Regions from separate parts of the Homo sapiens genome. Here all the other regions are reported to be linked to region 3. Evidence: microRNA targets listed by miRTarBase, many of them from high-throughput screens and not tested one by one. Region 3 holds a microRNA gene; each other region holds the end of a gene's coding sequence.

What was found. Region 3 holds the annotated microRNA hsa-miR-4295 (CAGUGCAAUGUUUUCCUU, at 2,904-2,921, opposite strand). A microRNA usually pairs through its seed, bases 2 to 8, with sites in the 3' UTR of a target mRNA and lowers its output. Matches are read on the target gene's strand: a 7mer-m8 pairs with bases 2 to 8, a 7mer-A1 pairs with bases 2 to 7 and ends in A, and an 8mer does both.
Region 1: miRTarBase lists HOXA5 as a target of hsa-miR-4295. Seed matches in the 3' UTR shown: 7mer-m8 at 4,275-4,281.
Region 2: the mRNA of POP7 is a reported target of hsa-miR-4295. Seed matches in the 3' UTR shown: 8mer at 4,155-4,162.
Region 4: the mRNA of NKAPD1 is a reported target of hsa-miR-4295. Seed matches in the 3' UTR shown: 8mer at 2,059-2,066.
Region 5: miRTarBase lists NOM1 as a target of hsa-miR-4295. Seed matches in the 3' UTR shown: 7mer-m8 at 1,265-1,271.

The regions. Positions count from the first base shown.
Region 1 is chr7:27,137,199-27,142,298 of GRCh38, forward strand. It overlaps HOXA5 (homeobox A5), which reads right to left. Exons shown (of 2, transcript NM_019102.4): 2 at 3,854-4,887. The coding sequence ends at 4,637. It overlaps HOXA3 (homeobox A3), which reads right to left. Exons shown (of 6, transcript NM_153631.3): 2 at 2,885-2,988. HOXA-AS3 (HOXA cluster antisense RNA 3) reads left to right here and starts at 3,166. Exons shown (of 3, transcript NR_038832.1): 1 at 3,166-3,341. RefSeq lists an enhancer at 2,312-2,890.
Region 2 is chr7:100,706,550-100,711,638 of GRCh38, reverse strand. It overlaps POP7 (POP7 ribonuclease P/MRP subunit), which reads right to left. Exons shown (of 2, transcript NM_005837.3): 2 at 4,153-4,818. The coding sequence starts at 4,808. The coding sequence ends at 4,386. Among named protein-coding and RNA genes, the nearest start is that of POP7, 3.0 kb to the right of the region's middle.
Region 3 is chr10:112,631,998-112,637,100 of GRCh38, reverse strand. It overlaps MIR4295 (microRNA 4295), which reads right to left and starts at 2,931; the gene lies at 2,847-2,931. The region is part of intron 5 of VTI1A (vesicle transport through interaction with t-SNAREs 1A); the gene reads right to left. It overlaps LOC124902503 (a long non-coding RNA gene), which reads right to left. Exons shown (of 2, transcript XR_007062292.1): 2 at 1-5,103.
Region 4 is chr11:112,081,959-112,087,042 of GRCh38, reverse strand. It overlaps NKAPD1 (NKAP domain containing 1), which reads right to left. Exons shown (of 6, transcript NM_018195.4): 5 at 5,008-5,061; 6 at 1,893-4,578. The coding sequence ends at 4,071. TIMM8B (translocase of inner mitochondrial membrane 8 homolog B) reads left to right here and starts at 287. Exons shown (of 2, transcript NM_012459.4): 1 at 287-403; 2 at 1,581-2,243. The coding sequence starts at 320. The coding sequence ends at 1,748. It overlaps SDHD (succinate dehydrogenase complex subunit D), which reads right to left and starts at 170. Exons shown (of 4, transcript NM_003002.4): 1 at 84-170. The coding sequence starts at 135. RefSeq lists enhancers at 1-169, 1-732.
Region 5 is chr7:156,968,959-156,974,061 of GRCh38, reverse strand. It overlaps NOM1 (nucleolar protein with MIF4G domain 1), which reads right to left. Exons shown (of 11, transcript NM_138400.2): 10 at 4,866-4,975; 11 at 886-4,533. The coding sequence ends at 4,359. Among named protein-coding and RNA genes, the nearest start is that of NOM1, 22 kb to the right of the region's middle.

The DNA of each region.
Region 1 (5,100 bases), not on the chromosome of region 3:
TTGGTGGGAAATTCTGTCTTGCTCTCTCAGAGCCGCCAACAATGAAGCAGGGGAAAGAGCAGGAGAAAGGGAATCTTGGCATAATGTTGTGAAATTAGACCATGGAAACCCTAACAAACCACTAAGTAAGTGTGACCAGAAGCTTCCTGTTGTATTTATAGTTCAGAAATATTGTCTCTTCAGCTTGTGGGAACAAACGAGCCCCCGCACATTGCCGCTGAGGAGGAGCACAGACACGCACTTCTGCCACCGGCTGAGGCTGGATGTCTTCATAAAGCCCTCAGTGACAGACATATTTTTTCTTAGTAAGTTCCTCTGCAAGAACAACCCAAAAGAATCCACAAAAGAAATAACTTATCTACAGAATGAGCAGAAAACCAGCCATCCTCTTTATTATGCTTCCTATGAAAATAGGAAGAAAGAAAAAAATCTTCCAGTAACACATAGGTCTGACTGCATGATGTATTTTTAAAGTCATTTTAATTCCATGTGGCCATGTGGGTTTGCCTGCTCTCTTAAATTCTACTTAAGTTTTGTGAAGATTAAAACAGACAGAAATAAGCAAGCTGACAATATTTACAGCCTGTAATTTTTCTCATTCCTTGGAAAGATTCTCTATGTTCTGTGGTACTGGATATGACTTCAACAGGCTTTCTGCTCATTCCCACACCCCAGGGTGGAATATGGCCATGAAGTAGTGTGGATATTTTCTGTGTAAGTAACTCAAATTAAACTGGCAGAATCCCCGTCACTCTTTTTTTTTTCTAATTTCAATCACCAAGAAATCACTCAAGCAAGATCACCAAATCAGTAACTAAAATGGAACCATAACGCAATATTTTCCAATAAGGAGCCCAAAATTCAGAGCAGCAAAACAAGGAATCCAGTATTCTCACAGACACATAACATTATAAAAGAGAACCCATACCCATGTAGAGTTTATATCCTTGTTCCCACTAAGATGTGGACACATCTTCTTGAATGCTGAAATACCAATGTTTACTTTAATAGGTTACACACAATGACTTCAGGATTCTTCACCTTGCCACTATTCATGAGAAGTAGCACTTGTGGGAGGGTTTTGATTTTTCAAAAAAACTTTCTAGGTTTTGCTTTCTGGACCTCTGACTTTAGGGACATCTGTTGGACTTATGTTGAGTGTAGGTGGCCTCTGCACAATAAGTTTATTGAAATTCCAAATCTATACTTTCAATTTTTTCACTTTAAGCACTTAATAGGTATCTTTACCAATTAATACTTGCTGAAAACTGCCCAGCTCCTAAGGAGAAAAGCAGATCCTATTTTTTGTTTCATTTCTGAATGCAGTAGGAGAATTTGGCTTAATTCCTAAAATAGGATTGGAGGAAATCTACTGGGTCCCTTGTGGGTACCCATCCAGAAAAAGATCCCAGGACAGGCCACAGTCCCCAGTCACTGGGCTTGGGTTTTGCCATTGAAGAATATGGGGGGTTGGGGCCAGAAGGGGTGACTGGGGCCAATATGGAATTGTGCCCAGGATAAACTTATTTCACCTTACTTCACCCATTGGTGCAATTTTGGAGACTGTTCTGGAAATCATAGATTATGTAAATTTCCTGGGATCAAACAGAAAGAGCAACTAACAAAAGAAAGGCGGAAATCTCCTACTGACAAAGGACCAATTTCTTCCCTAAACTACCGTTTATGATGTGTCAGGAAAAACAACCTAATGGCTCTGGGGACTTTTAAGTTGGGCACTGAAGACACCTCAATTTCCCCCAAAACTTTAGAGCACAGTTTGGAACAGAGAATTCGCCTGTATGTTGAGGGGGAGTGAATTTCTCCAATCTTAATGTTATCCAGGGGGCCGCCTAAGTTGCCTTCTGAGGGTCCTGTGCGTAGATGTTTTTAATTCTACAAAGAAGGAGAGGAACAGGAAAGAAGAGAGGGAGAAGAAAGGCAAAGCGGAAGAAAAGAAAGCGCTTTAACCCCTTTCAATTAGCCTGGGGATTCAAAGACTAAAGTTAAATCCGGCCATAAAGTTTATTGCTTCAGACTCACAAGCGGCTGAGAACAGTCCCGCCGAAATAAAAAGAACATGCAGGCAAACAGGGTTCAGGGCCTGGTCCCGGGTGCGGGGGAGGGGGTCCTGAACACCCCCCCACACCAGGGTGGGGATCCTTGGTCCTCAGGGTCCAGTGGGCGCTAGCAGCCCAGGATCCACCTTGCAACCCGGGGGCCCAGCCTGGAGGTGCAGCCCCAGCCTCGCCGGCCTCTGCCACCCTCCCGCTCTCGCGAGCTAGCCTGAAACCCGGCCCCGAAGGCCGCCGCCTCAATTCAGCCCTGCCAAATGACCCCGGCCCGCGAAGACATATTGCCACAGCCCCGTAAGGAATCCCGCCAGAGTCCGCCTCGGCCCTGCCCCGGCCTTTCTTTCAAACTCCTGAGCGCAGCGCGGCCCTCGGCGCCCGCGGCCGGCGCCCCACTGTCTCCCAGCCCCGACCCCAGGGCTCCGCGACCCCCAGGAGCTGGCCCCGGCCGGCCCAGCAATTGCGCGGGGGACTGGGGGTGCGGCCCTGCCAGGTCCCCACACACAGGCCCATTCGCACACAAAAATCATCTTTTTGCACGCCGGCGGGAGCAGCGGAAGTCATTAACATCCGCGGTTGTGCTGCAATTAAAGTTAGGCCTGGGGATGCGGCGCGGCCACAGGCGCTGCTCACTCTGCTGCCTCCGCAGAGTTGGCTCCTGGCGCTGCTCTTTTGGGCAGAGGGAAAGTTTGCTCTGCCTTTTCGAATTCAGAGGCAGCCTGAGTTATTGAACCAGAGAGAGAGAGAGAGAGAGAGAGAGAGAGAAAGTTTCCAAAGTACAAATAAACTTGAAAGCGCTCAGGAGGCGAGCTTACCTTAACTCGGAGGGAGCCATTTTTCAGAGAGTTTTGAGAACTTGTGGTTTGGACACTTCTGGACCTAAAATTGACAGTTTGAATGGCCAGGCGGCACACGTAGCCTGCAAAAGAGTCAAATGGAGTCCAGCGTTAGTGAGATTATATGTTATGTGGTATATAATGTTGGATGTCAACTCCCCAAAACCATAAAACTTACTTTAATGGCCCCACGTGACGTTTTATAGCCAGTGAGCCGATCTGTCTGTGCTATGGATGATTTTACGATCTAATTCATAGACAAAACCCTATTCATTTGGCACCCAAATGTCATATAGCCGGAACTGGGGCTTATAAAGTTTACTGTTTTATAACTTTTAAAAGGAAAGACGGCATCAGTGTAAGCAGTCGGTAAATGTGCAAATCTCTAGTTGCGCTTTAGCTGCTCTGAGGAGTTTCCCAATCGAGCTAGGATGGGGTAAGTACCTTCAATTTGTAGCAAATTAATTGTAGCAAAAGAAGCCAACTGGGTCCCGGGTGAAGAGTGGGGAAGGGGTGCTGGGATGGGTTAAGGGCAGAGGGTTTGGGGTCCACAGACAGACATAGCAGCGTCTTCAGCAAGTGGAGGCCTAGGACAGCCTTAGGAAAGAGGCAGGATCTGTGTGGCCTGAGGGCGGCTAACAAAGCCCTGGGTTTTTTCTCCTTTTTTCTTGCTCTTTCTCTCTTTTTTGTACCCAGCAAGTTAACTTGGTTTCCTCAGAGATGGACAGGGTGTTCTGGGGCTTTGGAACAGCCTACAGCTTTTTCCACCTTCTGCCCTGAACTTTGCAATGGGTCAGAGGTAGGGAAGCGATGGGACAGTGTTGGTATGAGGTCTCCCTGCACAGGTCATCTGCTCAGGTAGCCTCAGACCCAACAGCTTCCAAGACTGCACAGACAGACAGAAAAGCAGACAGAGCCGCTCACTATTTGGCACAAACCAGACCAAGAGAACTTACAATAGAAAGTTTATTTTTTGTTCCAGTCAGTATTTTTTCCTTAAAAACAAATACAAAAAAAAAAAAAAAAAAAAAAAAGCTGATCACAGTTTGCTTAAAACAGCCAGACTTGGACAATATTTGTAACTTTGTTCACAAAAACATACATCACTGAAGCTGCGCTTATAAGAGCCACTTCCAGAGTTCGTGCAAAGGGTCCTATAAAGGCACGCAGGGACACACCGCTTGGAGTCACAGTTTTCATCACAGAGTCACTAGTCACTACACGTCGAACAAGTTGTGTCTCATCAAGTCACCTCTACAACAGCATTAATTACACAAGGAATATAGGTAGTTTGAATAAAAATATCTTTAACAGCTTGGAGCTATTGAGACAGGAACACTTCCACGCACATGCACAGTTAAACAACTTGAGTGCAACACACAACATTGGCACTAAACGAGATTGAAGGGGGACTTTTTGTGTGTTTTTTTTTCTCTTTTCTTTTTTTGTTATAGTTACTTCAAGTAACACAGCTTGCTTCATATAAATAAGTTAAAACATCTATTTTTTTTCAAGACAAAGCCATTCAGGACAAAGAGATGAACAGAAAGCAGATCTACTTATACAGGCGCTATAATGGCAATAAACAGGCTCATGATTAAAAGATGAATTAGGGCAACGAGAACAGGGCTTCTTCACAGAAGGAACACAAGGGAGTTTCAGAAAGTCACCTTAGTACTGACACTACGCGGGATCCGCTAATACTGCTCAGTACTTTAAACGCTCAGATACTCAGGGACGGAAGGCCCCTCCTGCCGCGGCCATGCTCATGCTTTTCAGCTTATTATCTTTTTTCCACTTCATTCTCCGGTTTTGGAACCAGATTTTAATTTGTCTCTCGGAGAGGCAAAGAGCATGTGCTATTTCAATCCTCCTTCTGCGGGTCAGGTAACGGTTGAAGTGGAACTCCTTCTCCAGCTCCAGGGTCTGGTAGCGCGTGTAGGCCGTCCGGGCCCTTTTGCCTTCCGGGCCGCCTATGTTGTCTGCAATAGAAAAGTCAGCGGTTTAGCCACCAACTCCTGTCTTCCAAAGTCCGCCAGGGGGACAAGCTTGGGTCATGAGCAGGGAACCCAGGCGAAAAGCTCAACAAGTTCTGCCTACCAGCCCGCACACCCCTCCCGAATTTCCTTCTCTCTTCCTTTCTAGAAAGAAAACAATACGATTTGGACCCTGGGAACAATCTGCCCATCTGAGGC
Region 2 (5,089 bases), not on the chromosome of region 3:
CTGCAGGAGGGAACTGCCAAAACAAACCAGATGGGAAAGGCTGCCTGCCACCACCTCTGCTGGGCTCAGGCCCGGAGCACATACGTGCAGGGAGACACAGCTCCATCCAGCTTCCTGCCGGCTCCCCGCTCGGCTACTGGGGGGCTCCCGGGCAAGGAAGCCTTGCAGTCAGGCTGATGGAAAGGATGTGGCCTGATAGAAATGTCCGCAGCCAGCCAGGTACGGTGGCTCACGCCTGTTATCCCAGCACTTTGGGAGGCCGTAGGCGGGCAGATCACGAGGTCAGGAGATCGAGACCATCCTGGCCAACATGGTGAAACCCCGTCTTTACTAAAAATACAAAAATTAGCTGGGTGTGGTGGTGCGCACCTGTAATCCCAGCTACTCAGCTACTTGGGAGGCTGAGGCAGGAGAATCGCTTGAACCAGGGAGTCGGAGGTTGCAGTGAGCGAAGATCACGCCACTGCACTCCAGCCTGGCGATAGAGACTCTGTCTCAAAAAAAAAAAAAAAAAAAAGAAATGTCTGCAGCCTTGTCTCCCAGTACCTCTTGCTTTCTAGCCACCTCGAGTCCCTCCAGTCCCAGAACGTAGCTGCCTATTCATTAATCCCCTCCCTGCCCACTGTTTTTTGAGACAGGTTCTTGCTGTTTCACAAGCCCTCAGTCACGGCTTACTGCAGCCTCAACCTCTTGGGCTCAAGCAATCCTCCCACCTCAGCCTCCTGAGTAGCTGGACCACAGGTGCACACCGCCAAGCCCAGTTAATTTTTAAATTTTTGATAGAGACAAAGTCTTACTCTATTGCCCAGGCTGGTCTCAAACTCCTGAGCTCTAGCAATTTTCTCTCTTCGGCCTTCCAAAGTGCTGGGATTACAGGCATGGCCACCATTCCCAGCCAAATCCACCCATCTCCCCGCCCCACTGTGATCTCTCTGCCAAATATGCCATCTCCCTTCTTTTCTGCCTGGCAAACTCCTATACATCCTTCAACACCCAGATCAAAGGTGAGTGAAACCATTTTGGGTCCCACCAGGAAGTTATTAGCCCTTTCCATCTCCACATTTCCTTATCATTGCTACTCTTATGTCTCACACATCTTACTCATTCACAAAAAATTATGTGTCCACCTTCCCAATTAGATGGCGAGCTCCTTGAACATAGGGACCATTTCATACGCAGATGCCAGAGGAAGGGATTTTGATGAATTAGAAGACTGATCTTCAGACCTCCAAACCAAACTACCTTCCTTGAATTAGAGTGAAATTCTGTTCCTAACCTGTAAATCAGAGGCTCTTAAACTCTTATGACCTCAAACGGTAAAAAACACAATGTACATCCTATTATAGTACATATATATATATATATATATATACACACATGCCTAACTGAAAAATTTGCTGGCCAGGCCTAGTGGCTCACACCTGTAATCCCGGCATTTTGGGAGGCTGAGGTGGGTGGATCACCTGAGGTCAGGAGTTTGAAATCAGCCTGGACAACATGGCGAAACCCCATCTCTACTAAAAATACAAAAATTAGCCAGGCGTGGTGGCACACGCCTATAATTCCAGCTACTCAGGAGGCTGAGACAGGAGAATCGCTTGAACCTGGGAGGCAGAGGTTGCAGTGAGCCAAGATTGTGCTACTGAACTCCAGCCTAGGAGATAGAGACTCTGCCTCAAAAAAAACAAAAACATCTGCAATAAAAACACCACCATTTAAGTTGCACTTTTTTTAAAACTTGGGTTCTTTTTTCTTTTTCTTTTCTTTTTTTAGACAAGGTCTTGCTCTGTCGCCCAGGCTGGAGTGCACTGGCGTGATCTCAGCTCACTGCAACCTCCCCCTCCTGGGCTCAGGTCATCCTCCCACCTCAGCCTCCCAAGTAGCTGGGACCACAGTTTTGTGCCACCATGCCCAGATAACTTTTTATATTTTTTGTAGAGATGGGATTTCGCCATGTTGCCTAGGCTGGTCTCGAACTCCTGCGCTCAAGAGACTGACCTGCCTCGGCCTCCCAAAGTGCTGGGATTATAGGCGTGAGCCACCACACCCAGCCTTATTTTTTTTGTTGTTGTTTTTGTTTTTTGAGACGGACTCGCTCTGTCGCCCAGGCTGGAGTGCAGTGGCACAATCTCGGCTCTCTGCAACCTCCGCCTCCCTGGTTCAAGCGATTCTCCTGCCTCAGCCTCTAGAGTAGCTGGAACTACAGGCATGTGCCACCACGCCTGGCTAATTTTTTGTATTTTTAGTAGAGACAGGGTTTCACCATGTTAGCCAGGATGGTCTTGATCTCTGGACCTCGTGATCTGCCCGCCTCAGCCTCCCAAAGTGCTGGGATTACAGGCGTGAGCCACCGCGCCTGGCTTTTTCTTTTTTTAAGAAGCTGTGACCCACAAATGGGTCACAACCCGCTTTGATAAACATTGCTTTAGTTGACTTTAGTTTGATAAATATGAAAAATCAGGTCATCCCACAAATATCCAAACAGAAAGTATTACCTGTGTGCCCAGTAATTATTTGGAGTGAGGGGTTCCTTCGCCACTGGAGCAGCCCAGTGAGAAGGGTCTGAAGGCCGGGCGCAGTGGCTCATGCCTGTAATCCCAGCACTTTGGGTGGCCAAGGCAGGCAGAACGCTTCAGGTCAGAAGTTTGAGACCAGCCTGGCTGACATGGTGAAACCCCTTCTCTACTAAAAATACAAAAAATTGCAGGGCATGGTGATGGATGCCTATAGTCCCGGCTACTCAGGAGGCTGAGGCAGAAGAATCCCTTGAACCCAGGAGGCAGAGGTTGCAGTGAGCTGAGATCGCACCACTGCACTCCAGCCTGGATGACAGAGTGAAGCTGTCTCAAAAAAAAAAAAAAAAAAAAAAAAGGGTCTGAAGGGCTCTGCACCTGAAAGCCCGGGTATCATCTAGGTAGGCCCTGCAGGTCCAGGAATTAAATGAAGCCACTTGTCAGTCCCTACCATGGAGCCTGACACTAAGAAGGTCCTGAAGTCTTAGTTTGCTTCCTTTTTTTTTTTTTTTTTTTTTTTGAGATACGGTCTTGCTGTGTCAGCAAGGCTGGAGGAGTGTAGTGCGGTGATCACAGCTCACTGCAGCCTTGAACTCCTGGGCTCAAGCGATCCTCCTGCCTCAGCTAACGAGGTAGCTGGGATTATAGGTGCAAACCACTACACCCATCTAGTTTTCAAAAATTTTTTGCATTTGGGAGGCCAAGGCGGGCAGATCACTTGAGGTCAGGAGTTCGAGAACAGCCTGGCCAACATGGTGTTTCCACTAAAAAAATACAAAAATAATTAGCTGGGCGTGGTGGCACTCACCTGTAATTCCAGCTACTGGGGAGGATGAAGCAGGAGAATCACTTGAACCCAGGAGCCGAACGTTGCAGTGAGCCAAGATGGCACCACTGTACTCCAGCCTGGGTGACAGAGCAAGACTTCATCTCAGAAAAAAAAAAAAAGTGGTTTTTTTGCATAGACTAGGTCTCAGTATGTCATCTAGATTGGAGTGCAGGTGGCATGATCATAACTCACTGCACCTTCAAACTCCCAGGCTCAAGCACTCTTTCCGCCTCAGCCTCCGCCAGTAGCTCAGACTACAGGCTGGAGCCACTGCACCCAACTAGAAGACGAAAATCTTTAAAACAAACATTGGGGCTGGGCACGGTGGCTCACGCCTGTAATCCTAGCACTTTGGGAGGCCGAGATGGGTGGATCACAAGGTCAGGAGATCGAGAACATCCCTGCTAACACGCTGAAACCCTGTCTCTACTAAAAATACAAAAAAATTAGCCAGGGTGTGGTGGCAGGCACCTGTAGTCCCAGCTACTCAGGAGGCTGAGGCAGGAGAATGGCGTGAACTCAGGAGGTGGAGCTTGCAGTGAGCCAAGATTGCACCACTGCACTCCAGCCTGGGTGACAGAGTGAGACTCTGTCTCAAAAAACAAACAAACAAACAAACATTGGGATGACTGGGTTTCTGCACTGTACTGTTTTGTTACACTGCTCATAGCATAATCTATGCTCTCTATAGAGGCAAGAAACACTTGGGTTCCCCTTTCACCTAGATACCTGTAGCGTTTCCTACCATCCCTATTCAGGCACACACAGAATTTACACAGGAAAGAATCAGTGGCAGTGGGATGGCAGGACACTAGTGCAACAGGATTTTTTATTTATATGGCAATAGTTACAGACCGCATACACACACTCAGGAAGGCCCACTAACTGGGCCCACCAAGAGACAATTACCCCCACCCTCAATGCAGAGTCCTTTGGGCTTCCAGGGAACAGGCCTTTTCTTACATGGCTCTGGTCCGAGGTCCAGTACTCAGCATGCGAAGAGCCATATCACGGAGGGGATAAGTGGAGGAGTGTCTTTTCAATTACTTGGGTGTGACCCTGAAGACTCGGATGTGGATGGCTGAGTTGTTGCGGATCCGAGTCAGTGGCTCCCGTGTGTCGGTCTCTGGCTCCAGCTCATCAACAAGCTCCACGGTGGAGGTATTGGCAGCCACCTGCAAGGACCCGAAGCTGCCCGCCTGCAGCTGCAGCGCGATGTTGATGGCGCGGTTGATGGCCAGGCCCAAGCCGTGAATGTAGATCTCAGAGCACGCGTTCTGACCCCGGGCCCCTCCGTCCAGCAGCTTCTGGCAGCGGGCCAGCTGGGCCTTAAAGTCCGTCTTCATGTTGACATAAATGTCATTGGGTCTCCGGGGCAGGCGGCTGGGAAGCCTTTTCCTAAGGGTGTATTCCACTGGATCCAGTTCAGCCTCCACAGCACCGCGGGGCTCTCGGTTTTCTGCCATGCTGTGTGCCCTGGCGTGGGAAAGGGACGCGATCAGAGGGCTCAGAGGGACCTCGAAGCCTTTCCTACCCCTTTTCCTGTACAAAGGGTGCACCTGGCCGGGCAGTGGCTCACGCCTGTAACCTCAGCACTTTGGAAGGTCGAGGCGGGAGGATCACTGGAGCCCGGGTGTTTGAGATCAGCCTGGGCAACATAGCAAGACCCTGTCTTAAGAAAAATTTTTTTAATTACCCGGGCCGAGGGGGGAGGATCGCTTGAGATCGGGAGTTCGAGGCTACAGTG
Region 3 (5,103 bases):
TTCTATTGGAACCATTCAAAAAAGCCTTCATGTCATTATTTAAGTTAAATATATCTGTCTGGTTAAGGCTATTCTGAGATAGAATGAGTTGACAGAGGCCTCTAGGTTCTAGAAGAATAGACTGGCCTTCTGATACATAAGAAATGTGAAATGTTTCCTCTGATCTATCTATATCCATGACAATGAATCTTAATGACTGTTTTTTGTTGTTGGTTGTTTCATTTTGTTTTGCTATGGTTGTTTATTTTCTCTTTACTTTGGAAGAGAATAATTGATCTCTAGCATTTAATTTATACTGACTGCACCCTCTAGTAATACACCAAAGAACAAAAGATACTACCTCTACACTTGAAGTTTTTTTTTTTTTTTTTTGAGATCGAGTCTTGCTCTGGCACCCAGGCTGGAGTGCAGTGGTGCAATCTCAGCTCACTGCAACCTCCGCCTCCCAGGTTCAAGCAATTCTCGTGCCTCAGTCTCCCAAGTAGCTGGGACTACAGGTGCGCACCACCACATCCAGCTAATTTTTATATATTTTTTTTAGTAGAGACGGGGTTTCACCATGTTGGCCAGGATGGTCTCGATCTCTTGACCTTGTGATCCATCCACCTCGGCCTCCCAAAGTGCTGGTATTACTGGCATGAGCCACTGCACCCGGCTGGAGTTTATAATCTATTTGACAAAATGGGATACTCACCATACCCACCCATAACACACCATCCAATGGCAGGAGAAAATTAATGAGCTATTACAATAGGTAAAAATAACAAGTAATATTAATTGCAATTGTATACCTTTATATAAAGCCCTGGTATTGAATGTCAACTATGTGAGTTGATGAGCTCAAGATTATTGGTCTACAAAGTGCCCTTATATAAAGATTTATGGGATGGCAAAGTTTGTAGTGAAAGAGTCAGCCTTGACTTTGACAGGTATTCATCCACAAATGCATCTGTGCAGAGTGCCTACTGTGAGCAAAGCATTCAGAGCCCAACCCTCGGATCTCTCTCCCTTGCAGGTGCTGCCTCATCTCAACCCATAATTATTGGCAGTTCAAGTTCTTACTTTGTATTTCTTTCCTACATTCTCCAAACAGTCTCCTTTGAGATCCTCATTCACTTTCATGGTTTTTAAATATCATCTCTGTTTCTATGCTTAATCTGTTAAAAACTATTCCAAGTTTTACTCCCCATTTCCTATTACATGCTGGGTAGTTCACTCATCCCTTAAATTCAGTGGGCATGAATAAAAATCACAGCTTCTTGCTATGTGCCTCTTCCCATCAGCTAAATGTGGGCGAATCAAGTGGGTCTCTTGGGACTCACACATATCAACTCAGTTTGAATCTTCCTTTATTTTGCTTCCCATTTTGAACCAGTCATCGGGTTTTCTCAAATCTTTCTTTGAATTATCTCTCATACTTGTTTCTTTTCCATTCCTACTGTTGTAACCTCTCACAAAGACCAGTGCAAAAGCCTCTTAACTGGTTTCCCTGTCTTCATTGTCTACAACCATCAGTACGTCTCGATTGTTTGATCTTTCTAAAATCTTCCTAAAACACCACTCTGGCCATGCTCACCAAGAAAAATCCAAGGTTTAAGCCAGCATTTAGAACCTTTCAGAATTTAGGCCTAAATACTCTTTCAGGCTTCTCTCTCAATTCTCTCTGGCATATATTCTAGACTTGGCCACCTCTGAGCTTTGACCCTTGCGGTTCCCTGTCTGGAATGCCTCTACCAATCTCCAATCCGTACAATCCTGCTGACTGCTCACGGTTCTGCTAAAACACTACATCTGCCATGAATTCTGCATCTGCCTTTACCAAAGGGATCTTTCTCCTTAAATTCCTCAGCACGCTGTCTCATCTCCACAAGATTTACATGCCTGCATTATCCTCTTTACCAGAGTAAAAGCTGCTTGAAGGCAGGAAATGTGTTATCTTTTATTCCCCCCAAATAATGAGCACAGTGCCTGGCTCATATTATGAATAAAGGCACCTCCAGCCCCAGCTTTCTGAACTTTGCAGTTACAGGCAACAACAAGGCAGTGAAAACTCCGGCAAATGTCCGTAGGAGACTCCTAGAATTAGCTCCTCTAATGCTCCTCTGTCTGCCTATTTTAACAGTTAAGGAAGACACAGAAAAAATGTTGGCCACTCAGTCCAGGATTCAACCCCAGAGTTTATTTATTATGCATGTTTATGTATTCAGATTGTGAAGGAGGCAATGGGCATGGATTGTAAATTGATGGCAAACTTAATGAAAAGCAGACAAAACAGTGTAAGAAGGCTTAAATGCCTTTTAGAACATGGCAGATATATAAAAAAGTCATAAGAAAGTTTACAATAAAGAAAAGAATGTGGAAGAGTGAGAGTCAAAAAAGATAATTACGTAGAAGATTTTTAAACAGCTTGTCTAATGGAGATGCTGAGTGATTAAGACAAACAGCTTGCCAAACCACCTTGTCACAGGGACATAAATCTGAAAAAGCAGCAGACTCCTCAGAAAGGTCAGACAGATCACATTTAGTTTCAAAAGGAAGAAAACATGAAATTCGTGTGTGTGTGTGTGTGTGTGTGTGTGTGTGTGTATGTGTGTGTGTGTCTGTGTGTGTGTGTATAACCACCGAGAGGCAATGGTATGATATTGATAATCTTTGGAGAAAGAAACCTTCTGTATTGTCAAGTGACTTAAAACTCGAGGCACAATCCAAAACAAGAATTAAATAGCACAGCATAGTGTAGTCAACACCATATGAGAGGGTGCCTTCAGGGCAACACACACTGCTGCCAGAACACCAACCAAAAAATGGACAATCAGGATCTCAAAAGAGATGAGTCACCCAGAGGGTCTCTGTAGGAACAGTCTAGTTTCTTAGCCTTGAACCGAAGTGGTCTTGCCACAGGCAAGGAAAACATTGCACTGTTCCACAAAGTCAATTCTAAATGCATAAGCCATTGAAGCATATTTCTTATGGAATAAAGACTGAGGAGAAATAAAGGTTGAGTAATGAAAGTAAAGATGCAACAAAACTTTTAAAGTGGCCAATCTTGCTCATATAATGCTTGCAACCAAAAGGGAAGAAAGCTCTATTACTCTGGGAAAAAGGTGTTTGGATACACCACTAAAATAGGAAGCCTAAAAGAACCATTGTTTTATAATTCTGAGTTAACTGTGATCCTTTTTCCTTTTTTCCGTTTGTTAACTGATGGTATTTTCTGGAGTGAGTCATGACTTTTTTTTTTTTTTAGTCTAGAGCCAACTTGATAATGCTATTTAAATAAATTAACTAACTAAACTGCAAAGTATAAGCTCTTATGCCCATAAAATAAGAGAAGAACTGGGAAGTTCACCAACAAGGATGAAATAGGAGAGGCATTTAATAAAATTTGGTGACAGAGTCAGGGTAAGGTAACTCTCTCAGTGACACATTTATGTAATGCTAGTCTTCTCTGCATGGGAGACATTACTTTTTGGGGGCAATGCCCTTTTCCTCACCACTGCTTTTCTCCAATCTCTTCTTTGACTTCCTTTTGGGATCCCTGGGTATCCTGCTGTGTTGTTCCAGCCCCGGTGTTTTGCCTGCTATCTCTTTTCAATGTCTGAAGATCAATTATCCCTTCGTGCTAGCATAGGGAGGACAGAAATTCTGGGGACCACAACTTTTCCATTATACTTGAAGGAAAAAAGCAGCTCTCTCCTGTAAGATGGAGAATTCGGAGGTTTCCTCACAGGCTTCTGGTGATGCTTAAAGCAGAGAATCAACCTACAGGGTTTTAGCACAGTGCCTGGCACATGCGGAGTACTCAAAGGATGTGAGCTAATCTTCTTCTTACTATTATTATGTAAGTCCCGTAATTCTCTATGACCCACTATGTGTTCCAGATGATGCCGAAGACCTAGAAAAGTGGCTTTCATCACCATCAGACCTCTCCTCTCCTTCAGACCTCTCCTCTCAGGACTCACCATGTTGGTCAGGCTGCTCTCAAACTCCTGACCTCGTGATCTGCCCGCCTCAGCCTCCCAAAGTGCTGGGATTACTGGCATGAGCCACCACGCCCAGCCCAGACCACCTTTTTGTAACAAATATTTCACACAGGATTTTTAAAAAAGAAATCAATATAATGCCCTAGCTGTAATATAAATACAGGAAAATAACTTACAACAAAATAAGAAGTATTTCTATTTGTAAATACCCAGGCATTACTATACTAATAGATACAACTAAGTAAGTACATGCTTGTGCCTATACAACTGTCACATGCATGTACAATCAACATGCATGTGACACTACATATGCAAACCAATCCACAAGCACTGTAATGACAGCTCAAATACTACAAGTCGCATTACCATGAACACTGTACTCACCCAACTTTCCACCTGTTCCTCTTCCCTAACCCCCTTATGGTTAGGTAGGACTATATGACTATTTCTGGCCGGTACACTATAGTCAGAAGTGATGTACCTCAACTTTGGGTCAAAATATTGATGAGCTGGTATGTGAATCCCGTCTATCCCTGCCCGCAGTGGCTGGCAACGATCCCCATGGTGGAGTCTGGATGCTTGAGTAAGTGGGGCAGAGCCCTCTGTCAATGCTTGATCAACTTTTAGCATAAATAAAAAAGAAACCTTTGTTGTGTTAAACCACCAGAATTTCTAGGTTAATTTGTTACTGTAGCATAATCCTGTCTATCCTTCAATGGTAAAGAACTCTTTTAAAATAAACCCTGATTTTACACAATTATTGTATACTTGGAAAACTCCACATACGTTCAAGCCACACAAAAATACTTTGTGTTCATATGGAAAACTACGTTCAGATAATTATAAATAGGGTGTGCACCTTCACAAATGACCAGCAGGACATTTGAGAGTTTGTGCAGGATCAGGGAGTGTTGTAAAAGACTACGCAATACATTCCAGGATGTTTATTACCCTTGAGTTATCACTGAGATAACCAAAATGCCCCAACAAAGGTTCAAAATGTCCCCTAGGGAAGAATACTACCCCAACTGATGGACACTAACTTGGAGAAAAGATCAACATAACCATGGCTGGCCAAGTTGTATATTTTTACAATTACAATTACAATTATATTGTTATA
Region 4 (5,084 bases), not on the chromosome of region 3:
CACCCGGCAGATGAGTCCTCACTTCCATCCCCTTCCCTGGCTGGAGGCTACGCTAAGCACCTCAGGGTGGGAAGACCCCTCACCTCGGCCTCCTAGGGCACCGCAAACGGCACTCAGCCTCCAGAGAACCGCCATCTCGTTCCTGAGGGCTCAAGGTCATCCACCAACCCGGAACCACTTAGGCGACAATTCCCACCCACGACGACGAAAGAAAACAGGGAAGAGGAAATGCTGGGTGAACCGGAAGTCGAGAGGCGGTGCACACCCGTCGCGCATGCGCAAACACAGCTGTCGGAAGGTGGCGAGCCTGAGGCGAACAATGGCGGAGCTGGGCGAAGCCGATGAAGCGGAGTTGCAGCGCCTGGTGGCCGCCGAGCAGCAGAAGGCGCAGTTTACTGCACAGGTGCGGGGACGGGGAGGGTGAAGGGAAAGGAAGTTTCACCTTCCTTGGTGGTCCTGGGCACGCTCGGAGGTCTGTACACTGGCGGCTCACTGGTGCTCGATCCCGGCTGCATCCCATTCCCCTCACGAAAGACAAAGTTATGGCTCTCCTGTCCCTGGTGACCGGTAGTGCTCAGGTGCCAGGTATATAAGCGTAGCGTGGAGAAAAGAAAAGGTGTAAAACAGGGAAGATTTGGGCGACGCAAGGGTACGGGAGACTAGTTAGCCGGCGACATGACTGGGCTGGCATTCGAAAGATCTGGGTTCTCATCCTCCCTCTGCTCCTTGCAGGCCACGTGCCCGTAGAAAAGATACTCATCCACTGTGGGTTTTGGTGTCGCCGTCACCCCACTGCCTCACTGGATTGTGAGGATCATATGCGACAATGTATTTGAAAACGACTAGAACATTATCGGAGGAAGGTGGACTCTGAAGTAGTCGCTGTAGACTATGGATGTAGAACAAGGGTTTGGAGCCCTTCGGACATGGTTCTAACGCGGCCTGACTTCTTGCTGGCTACATGACCTTGGACTACATAATCACGCCTCTTAAATGGGAGGTGATGACAGCTATCCTTGAGGACCTTAGAGAGAACTGATTTCTTAGTACCCAGCCTCACAAATAGTAAGCTCTTGGTAAAATGGTTTTTTCCTTTTGGGTGGGAGGAAGAGGGTGCTCGGATGACCAGCAAGAACCCTGGCTAGAAATCTTTGGGCCCTGAACATTCTAATGACAGTGCACATAATTTCTGTGCCTGTATGTGCATTTTTCTGGGGAGTGGATCCATAACCCCCAAAAGGTTAATGGAAGAATTACCTTGTCTAGGGGATAGGTTTGGAATAAAATGAGTGCAATAGTTTGGGAAAATTAATTGGTTCCCTAGTTGGTTCACAATGGTGCTAGCTACTTTGGGGAATATAAAAGGTTATTAGTCCTACCTGAGAATGTACAATCTGTAGGGACGAGGATCTGGATCAATATTGGTGACTAATTAGGAAATGAAGAAAGAGAAGAGCCCAAAGTGACTCCGTGGTTGATTTAAAGAATGGTTTTGTCAGGTGTCAAAAAGTGAGAAGTTAATAAACAAGAGTTAGGCCTATCTGCAGACCCCAATGGTTACTATTTTTCTTTCCTTTTAGGTGCATCACTTCATGGAGTTATGTTGGGATAAATGTGTGGAGAAGCCAGGGAATCGCCTAGACTCTCGCACTGAAAATTGTCTCTCCAGCTGTGTAGACCGCTTCATTGACACCACTCTTGCCATCACCAGTCGGTTTGCCCAGATTGTACAGAAAGGAGGGCAGTAGGCCATCCCCCAGGAGAATGACAGAAGCAAAGGACTTGTTACTAAGCAGATTTAAGGGTCAGTGGGGGAAGGCTATCAACCCATTGTCAGATCAGCATCAGGCTGTTATCAAGTCTGTTGGTGCTAAAAAGTAAAAGATGAAATGTTCAAAGAGTGAAATTTATTTATTTGGAATTCAGAAATTCCAGGTTGTATGACATCAGTTACTCAATAAGTGTGAATTCTCCAACTCTTCTTTTAATCCCATTTTAGAATTTAATATAGAGATCTCTGATTGGCAGGAACACTAGAAATAAATGTTCCATGGCCAGTAGTGCAAATGGGGGATTGTAGGTTTTGAAAAACCACCCTAAGCCATATTAAGGGGGTTGGAAGAACCATCGAAGCCTAAGGCATAGAAGAAAATTTGGGGTTAAGAAAGATGAAGAACAAAAAACAGCTTTATTGCTTATACATGACCAAGAAAAGGAAAACATGGCAAAAAAAAAAAAAAAAAGGCAAGATGTGTATTCCTTGCGAAAGAACAAGCCTGCTAACTTGGGAGGAAGGGAAGGTCAGGACCCAAATAGAGCCAATTTCCTGGAGATGGCCTGTTCTACTGGCACATTTTCCTGAGTCTGTGCTTAAAACCTTTCAGGTACTTTCAGGGCACAGAAACAATGCATGCTAAAAAATATATGGCCAAAGCTCCTTCCAACAAAGATTTAACTTGCTCCAGGAACAAAATAATTGCTTTAGGTTAAGAGGTAGTAATTAGAGACTATTCTTCTCCCTTTAGACCCCCACTAATCCCAAAAATAAAAATACACACCATGGAACACTGACAATTGAGTACCAAAGTATTAAAATTTAAAATAAATATCCCAAAAGGTAGCACCTGCTCATAGTTAAGGGATAGGGCACCTCTGTCCAACCATGTATTTTAAGACCAAGCACTTTATTAGAAATCTGTCCCGTAAAGAGAACAAATTTAGCAGTTAGAACTAAAAATACCAACTCATGGAATGTCATCATAGTTGTATCTACTGCTGGTGTCTTATACTGTCATGCTACTGTGAAGTAATTCCGTATTACACATCAGGAAAGTAAGGCCAGGAAGGTGAACTTACCTGCTCTGGGCCTCCTCATAACCAATGAGTGGCAGAACCAAGACCGAAAGTCTGAGTTTTCAAGCTTTTTACTCAGCCCATTAAGTGACAACCAGGAAAAAATAATACGTCACTTGATCTTTCTTCCCACAGTGAAAAAATGCACTTGCGTTCTGCCAGCCTTCTTTCAGTGATATGTTGGTTTCTTAAGAATTAACATACTAAGGATCACAGTATAGCAAAGGGAATTAATGTGGTCTCTGCTTGGTGCTTTAATCCAAAGGCAGACTGGGAAGAAGTGGATATGTCCCTGAGAAGCCTGTTTCATTTTGGAAATAATTCAACTTAGTTTCAGGGAAAACCTAAACTTCATGAACAGATTTAGAAATGAACAAGACAACATTTAAATGGCAGTTGCTGCCCTGAATCCAGAGTACCATTAGACAACATGATTATTTCCTAATTCTTCCCCATTTGGTACAGGATTATCTATGACAATTGAAGAAATAATTTGAACACAAGTCCATTTAGGCAAATATACAGCAATGGAACTAGAAAACCATTTACTATCCAATTACCATGTTTAGGCATATACTAAGTATAGCTATAGGCCCCATCCAGCAGGGAAATTTGCAAAAACTCTAGTCCCTTCTAATAAGTTGTCTATGGATGTTATCATGAAGGGAAAAGGTTTGTTCTTAGGCCCATGTCCTGATTAAGTAAACCGGACCACACCTGTGGGGTCAAAATATAGAAGGATCAAAGCACCAAGGCTAAAGACAAGTTAGTTGTGACACCTGCTATATAAACAGAGAGCAATACAGTGTTGCCTTGTCATACCATCCTACATGGCATTAGTTCCAATCCACCTCTTGATCCCAGCCCTTGACTTCCCCAAATTCAATATTCCGATTGGTGTACCCAGGTCACTATTGGATCCAGCTTTCTGGGTCCTTTAATTTGCTGTATATGCACTCTACACTAAACGTAATTAATTGCAAAAAAAAATAATCTCTTCAAGAAACCTTCATAACAAAATACCAGATTCCCTTTTAACAAGAAAAGGGGATCAAGCTTAACGCCAAAATAGAAGACAAGACGTCTGTCAGAACATACAGATGGCACAAGACAGCTCTGACCTCAGGCCCCGTGCTGAACAAGAGTCACTGGCAAAACCACAAGGAGTAAGAACTGTAAATATCCACAGTCATGTGGAAAACAAAAGTGTTTCCCATTTAGTCATCCTCTGAGCTCTCAGCAGACCTTTCATCTGTAGCTACTTTCCAATTTGTGCGTTTGTTTGTCCTCTCCTGTATTTCATTGTTGGCTACAGAGGTATGGGCTTTTTTCTCTCTCTTTTTCCTTTTGGTTTTCTTAGTGTCTCTTTCCTCACTTTCCTCAGAACTGCTGGATGCTGAATCATCTGAATGTGAAGTGTTACTTTCTGCCTCTAAGAATAAAGCAGGTTTTTTGAGAGACTTTTTCCTGGATTTTTTCTTGCGTTTATGTGGTTGTTTCCCTTTCCTTGTACCAGAAGCCCCAGTTTCTTCTGAGAACTCACTCGAGGAATCTGCTGTTATATCTGTGGCTTCCTTTTTGCTTTTCTTCTGTTTTTTGTGTGACCTTTTTTTCTGCTTTTTTTTGTGGGATTTCTTTGACTTCTTGTGTTTGCGGGATTCATGGGTAGATGACTTTACCTGGGGAGATGTTTTCTTCCCGTTGGTAATATCTTGCTGATCACTACTAATAAGAAAAGTTAAAAAATAGAAGCTTTTATGTAAAAAAAAAGCGTATTATTTTAATATTTTGCATTCTAGATTAAAAAATTGAGGTTAACATCTGAATTTTAAATAAGCACTTTAATGTATACTTTAACACTTTAATATTCTCATTGAGTTTTTGTTTCCTCATCTTTAAAATGAAGGTAAAAATTCTAAGCTGCCATACTGAGTTACTGTATGGAATACTATATATAAAAACCAAAATGCTTACAGACATGCCAAACATCAACCAGAGAATGGGAAAACAGGGATCACCTCCTAACTAAATCACCTATTGTTTCTCTAGCTACATTTTTGATGGCAAGTATATTCTTCGTAAAAGTTAAGAAATCAATTTATAATACAGATTTTGTACCATCTTAGTTTCTTTCAGTAAGCCTATTTTCCTTACCTGTCTGTTTCAAATTCTTCAGGGTATAACTCTTTATAACCACTGTGACCCCATCTGTAATATGACACATCACATGT
Region 5 (5,103 bases), not on the chromosome of region 3:
CCACTGACACCAAGCCCATCATCAGTGCAGTTCTTGATACTGAAGCCCCTGAGCACGGTCAATGACAGGACCTTCCCTCCTTCCGTTCTCCAGCTCTCCCACCCTCCCCTGCCAATGCAGGTAGTGCGACAGGGAGCTAAGGCGGTCACCTGACCAAGCTGAAGGAAACCAACCCACCCTAAAGTTAAGGTAAATCTTGGCAGATGTACGCTAAGGCCTAGGCAATTTTTTAAGGAGGCAAAGGTGATTTGAATGTTTGCTTACTTTTGTAAAAGAATAGTATATTTTAGATCTTTATAGAATGAGTTCTGAATTATGAATGCTTTCAAAACATCTATTTTGAAACAATTATACACTTACAGAAAAGTTCCAAGAACACACTTCACCCGCATAAACCTCTCCAAGTTCTCCAGTGGTTAACATTCCACCTCCTGGGCGTTCTCTCTCTCTGGGGGTGGAGAGAATGAATCTTTCTTCCTAAATCATAGAGCTAAGTAGCCTTCTTTAAAAGGTAAAGGAAAGGTATAGACCTCAGTTTACCACCAAAGCTTTTTTTTTTTTTTGAGACAGAGGCTTGTTCTTGTGCCCAGGCTGGAGTGCAATGGCGCAATCTCAGCTCACTGCAACCTCCCCCCACTGGGTTGAAGTGATTCTCCTGCCTCAGCCTCCCGAGTAGCTGGGATTACAGGCACCTGCCACTATGCCTGGCTAATTTTTGTATTTTTAGTAAAGATAGGGTTTTGCCATGTTGGCCAGGCTGGTCTCGAACTCCTGACCTCAGGTGATCCACCTGCCTCGGCCTCCCAAAGTGCTGGCATTATAGGTGTGAGCCACCGTGCCCGGCCAAGCTGGTCTTTCAAAATAAACATTCACTGTTACTCTAAACAAAATATAAAAAATAAATTTTATTTATGCATTTCAATACATTAAAGTTTGTTCCTTATACCTTTAAAAATGATACCCTGAAAGACAGCTGTTTAGTCATTCTATACATTAGCAGTTCTCAACCTGCATTGTAAAGTCCACAAGTTCATACATAACACTGAGCACTAAGCATCCTGCAGTATTTTAAGTGTATTTTCAATTGCACTGTAATAAATTTCAAAAAACCCCCTATATATTTAAAAGCAATTCTGAATTCATAGCTTTTAATCAAGATGTACTCATTTACTATTTATACGAAATTACAATTACTATCTAACAGCCCATATATGTTGGGTTTTTGTTTCTGCTTTTGAGAGTTTCACTCTTGTTCCCAGGCTGGAGTGCAATGGCACGATCTCTGCTCACTGCAACATCCGCCTCCCAGGTTCAAGCGATTCTCCTGCCTCAGCCTCCCGAGTAGCTGGGATTACAGGTGCCTGCCACCATGCCCAGCTAATTTTTATATTTTTCATAGAGACGGGGTTTTGCCATGTTGGCCAGGCTGGTCTCGAACTCCTGACCTCAAGTGATCCACCCGCAACCTCCCAAAGTGCTGGGATTACAGGCGTGAGCCACCGTGCCCAGCCCTGTATGTTGTTAAAATGAACAGACTTACAGGCAATCTGCCATGTACTAAATGCAAACCATAGCTAATAATTTAAGTCATACATATAACTCTCTAGCAAAGAGAGGTATTTTTGTTTTAATAATAAAATATAAAAATGGGATTGTTTATAGAAATTCATCTTTTGCAGAAAAATCAGCTTCAATTCTGTACCTCAAACATGGGTTACTGCATATGGTACATCATGAAATCAGGTGGTGCCACTGTCGTGATAGTTTTTCCCATCTTAGTAGCCGCACCCATAATTAATGCCTACTCACATCAAGTTAGCACCACTCAAATGTGGGCCATTCACAGGCAGCCAGGGATCCTCTTGGTCCGTGAGGTTGGGGGCTTGCATCAGAATGCAAATCTACCGAGGCGTGAAGCACAATTTAGTTCAACTGACATTTTTTCCTTCACAGTAAGACCTTCTGGAGGAAGGAAGCAGTGTGTTGATTTATACCTTAGCCCAAGCTCCTTATTTCACTATCAAGCTACAAGTCCAGTAGAACTGATCTGTTACATCCCAATCACCACCCAGCAAAGACACTCTTGTTAAAAAGCTCCTTAACAAAGGGAAGATTTTCACTTAATTCACTCTTCTCTTAGTACCTGTCACCTTATTTGTCCTCTAAATTCAGAACCTGCTAGAAGACATAGGGTTTGAATCTGGCTTCGGGTCGAATGATGTTGCTGAATGCAGGGTTAGAAGTCTGTAGGGACGACACAGTCTCTGTGCTGCTTTCAGTTACTTTCTGTATTCAGTTGTTCATGTTGCTTGCGCATGCTTCAAAGCTTAAACCATTAGTTTAGGGATATGCACAGATACTGATGACTTCACATCACGATTTCCAAACACAAACTGCCATAGGGTCGAGCTAAAATAAAATTTGAGGCCAGGCACGGGGGCTCACGCCTATAATCCCGGTGTTTGGGAGGCCAAGGTAAGAGGATCACTTGAGGCCAGCCTGTATAACATACGGAGATCTTGTCTCTACTGCTTGTGGTCCTAGCTATCCGCGAGGCTGAGGCAAAAGGACCGCTTCAGTCCAGGAATTTGATGCTGCGGTAACTATGATCGTGCCACTGCACTCTGGCCTGGGTGACAGAGTGAGCCTGTCTCTCTCTTAAAAAGTAAATAAATAGTATCTGAAAGTGCCACAAATGGGGCGTTTTGCCCAGGAGAGGCATCACCAGCACCTGTGCCCATCTGCCCAACGTGACCACTCTGAAGAGGACGGTGACTGCTGGACAGATGAGTTTTGGACATATATAACCTCTCAATGTCTATTCTGTATTCACATCTTAGTGACTTTTTTCAACAATCAAAGGTAAGATTTAAATTGAGTCTGTAGCATTTGAGAGAGAAAAGCAAAATTGAAGGGCTGAGAAAACAATAAACATTTGGGTATCTGCAATACATGCTGTTATCTAGGGACATTTCTGCTTCCTCCCAGAATCAGTTTTCCATACTTAGTGAGTGGGGTGTGTTTGTTTCTCCCACTAGACGGATGTTAATTCTTTGCAGGCAGTAACTATATTTTCTTCATGTTTACATCTCCAAATCCTTGCAAGCAAGTAGCACCTATTAACAGTCAAATAACTACTGTTTGGTGACCTCAGAGTTGTTTAAGATGGTACATTTACAATCTGGAATTGGTGAGGAGATGAATATCCTCAACTGTGTGAGAATGTTACATGAATGATGAAAAGCACCTGTCTGCATTACAGTGTACATAAGGCCATATCCACAGGGCTTATGTCGACTGACTTTGCCAAAGTTAATTGCAACCTAAATACTTAAAACAGTATCAAGAATCACATTTAAGCTGGGCGTGGTGGCTCAAGCCTGTAATCCCAGCACTTTGGGAGGCCGAGATGGGTGTATCACCTGAGGTCAGGAGTTCAAGACCAGCCTTGCCAACATGGTGAAACCCATCTCTACTAAAATACAAAAATTAGCCGGGCGTGGTGGCGTGCGCCTGTAGTCCCAGCTAAAGAGGCTGAGGCAGGAGAATCGCTTGAACCCGGGAGGTAGAGGTTGCAGTGAGCTGAGATTACAGGACACTGCACTCCACTCTGGGTGACAGAGCAAGACTCTGTCTCAAAAAAACAATCACCTTTAAGGGATGGTTTTTGAACTTCTAACCAATATTTTAAAAAGGTAAAAACCTCATCAATTTCTTTATAACTGCACCCTCTAGTGGCCTGTTTTATCTATTAATTTTTTTTTTTTTTTTGACAGTCTCACTGTCAAAAGTCTCACTGTCCAGCCCAGGCTGGAGTACAGTGGTACAATCTTGGCTCACTGCAGCCTCTACCTCCAGGGTCCAAGCAATTCTTGTGCCTCAGCCACCTCAGTAGCTGCTATTACCAGCATGTGCCATCATGCCTGGCTAATTTTTATATTTTTAGTAGAGACAGGGTTTTGCCCAGGCTGGTTTCAAATTCCTGGCCTCAAGTGATCCGCCCACCTTGGCCTCACAAAGTGCTGGGATTACAGGGGTGAGCCATCACGCTCGGCCATATCTATTAAAAAATTTTAAGACAATCATACACACCAGCCTCACTGCTTAGAGAACCCTGTCCAGTGTGCCTGACCCCTTTTCCCTCCCTCCTTCTCCTCTCACCCCCAAGATAGTTATTTGAAAATGGCTTGAAATACAAACAATAAAACCTTAGATCAAAAAAAATCTCAAAATATAATACATTAACAGACAATGATATAGCTCTACCAAACATTCACACGCAGGCAACAGAATAAGCCTTTGGGTTTACCAAGGACATTTTACAGTCAAAGGGCCACCTGCCCTCCTTCCTTCCCTGACTACATTCTCAGGGAAGCTTTTCCTTGCAGACACTTCGTTGCAAGGTCAGCTTTCTCTCTCAGCACGTTGGCTTCGTCGGCGCTTCTGTGGGCCTGTGCGTTCTTTAGCAAGAAGTGGCTGATGAAAAGCTTCAAACCCTCACGTAACACCCCCAGCTTTGGGTTGTCAGATACTCTGGAAAGGAATCGTATAAACACATGTCAGGGCTGAGCTGGCCTCTCCTAGATCTCAATCCTGGGTATCTCGCATAGTGAGACATAACCAGTTTCTTTTAAAAATAAAATTCTCAATTAAGAACTTCTTAACATATTTTATTATTAACAATCATTGTTAGTTTGCTAGCAGACAAGTTTCTATTCCCCAGATCTAATGCATACCAGCTTAAAAATAAAACCGAAAAGATTAAGCTACACGTATAGTACAACCTTGTGTTTGTAAATCAACACAAGTGAAAACAATCTCTTCATTTCTCTTCCATGTCTCGTCGGAAAGGGTGGGGCACATACCTTGTGAAAATTAAACTGAGGTCTTCAACTTCTGTTTCCATTAATAGGATACTTAATACTTTTCGTAAAAAACGGACTCTGGGTTTGTCCAATTCACTGAATTCAACTACCTAATGGTCAGGACATGGAGAAAAATAAAGTTACACTGATTTAGCCAACTTTTTCAATGATTTGTAATATAGTTAATTAGAGTAAAAATTAATCTCCCCCCTTCCCCCACTCTACCCGATTTAAGAAG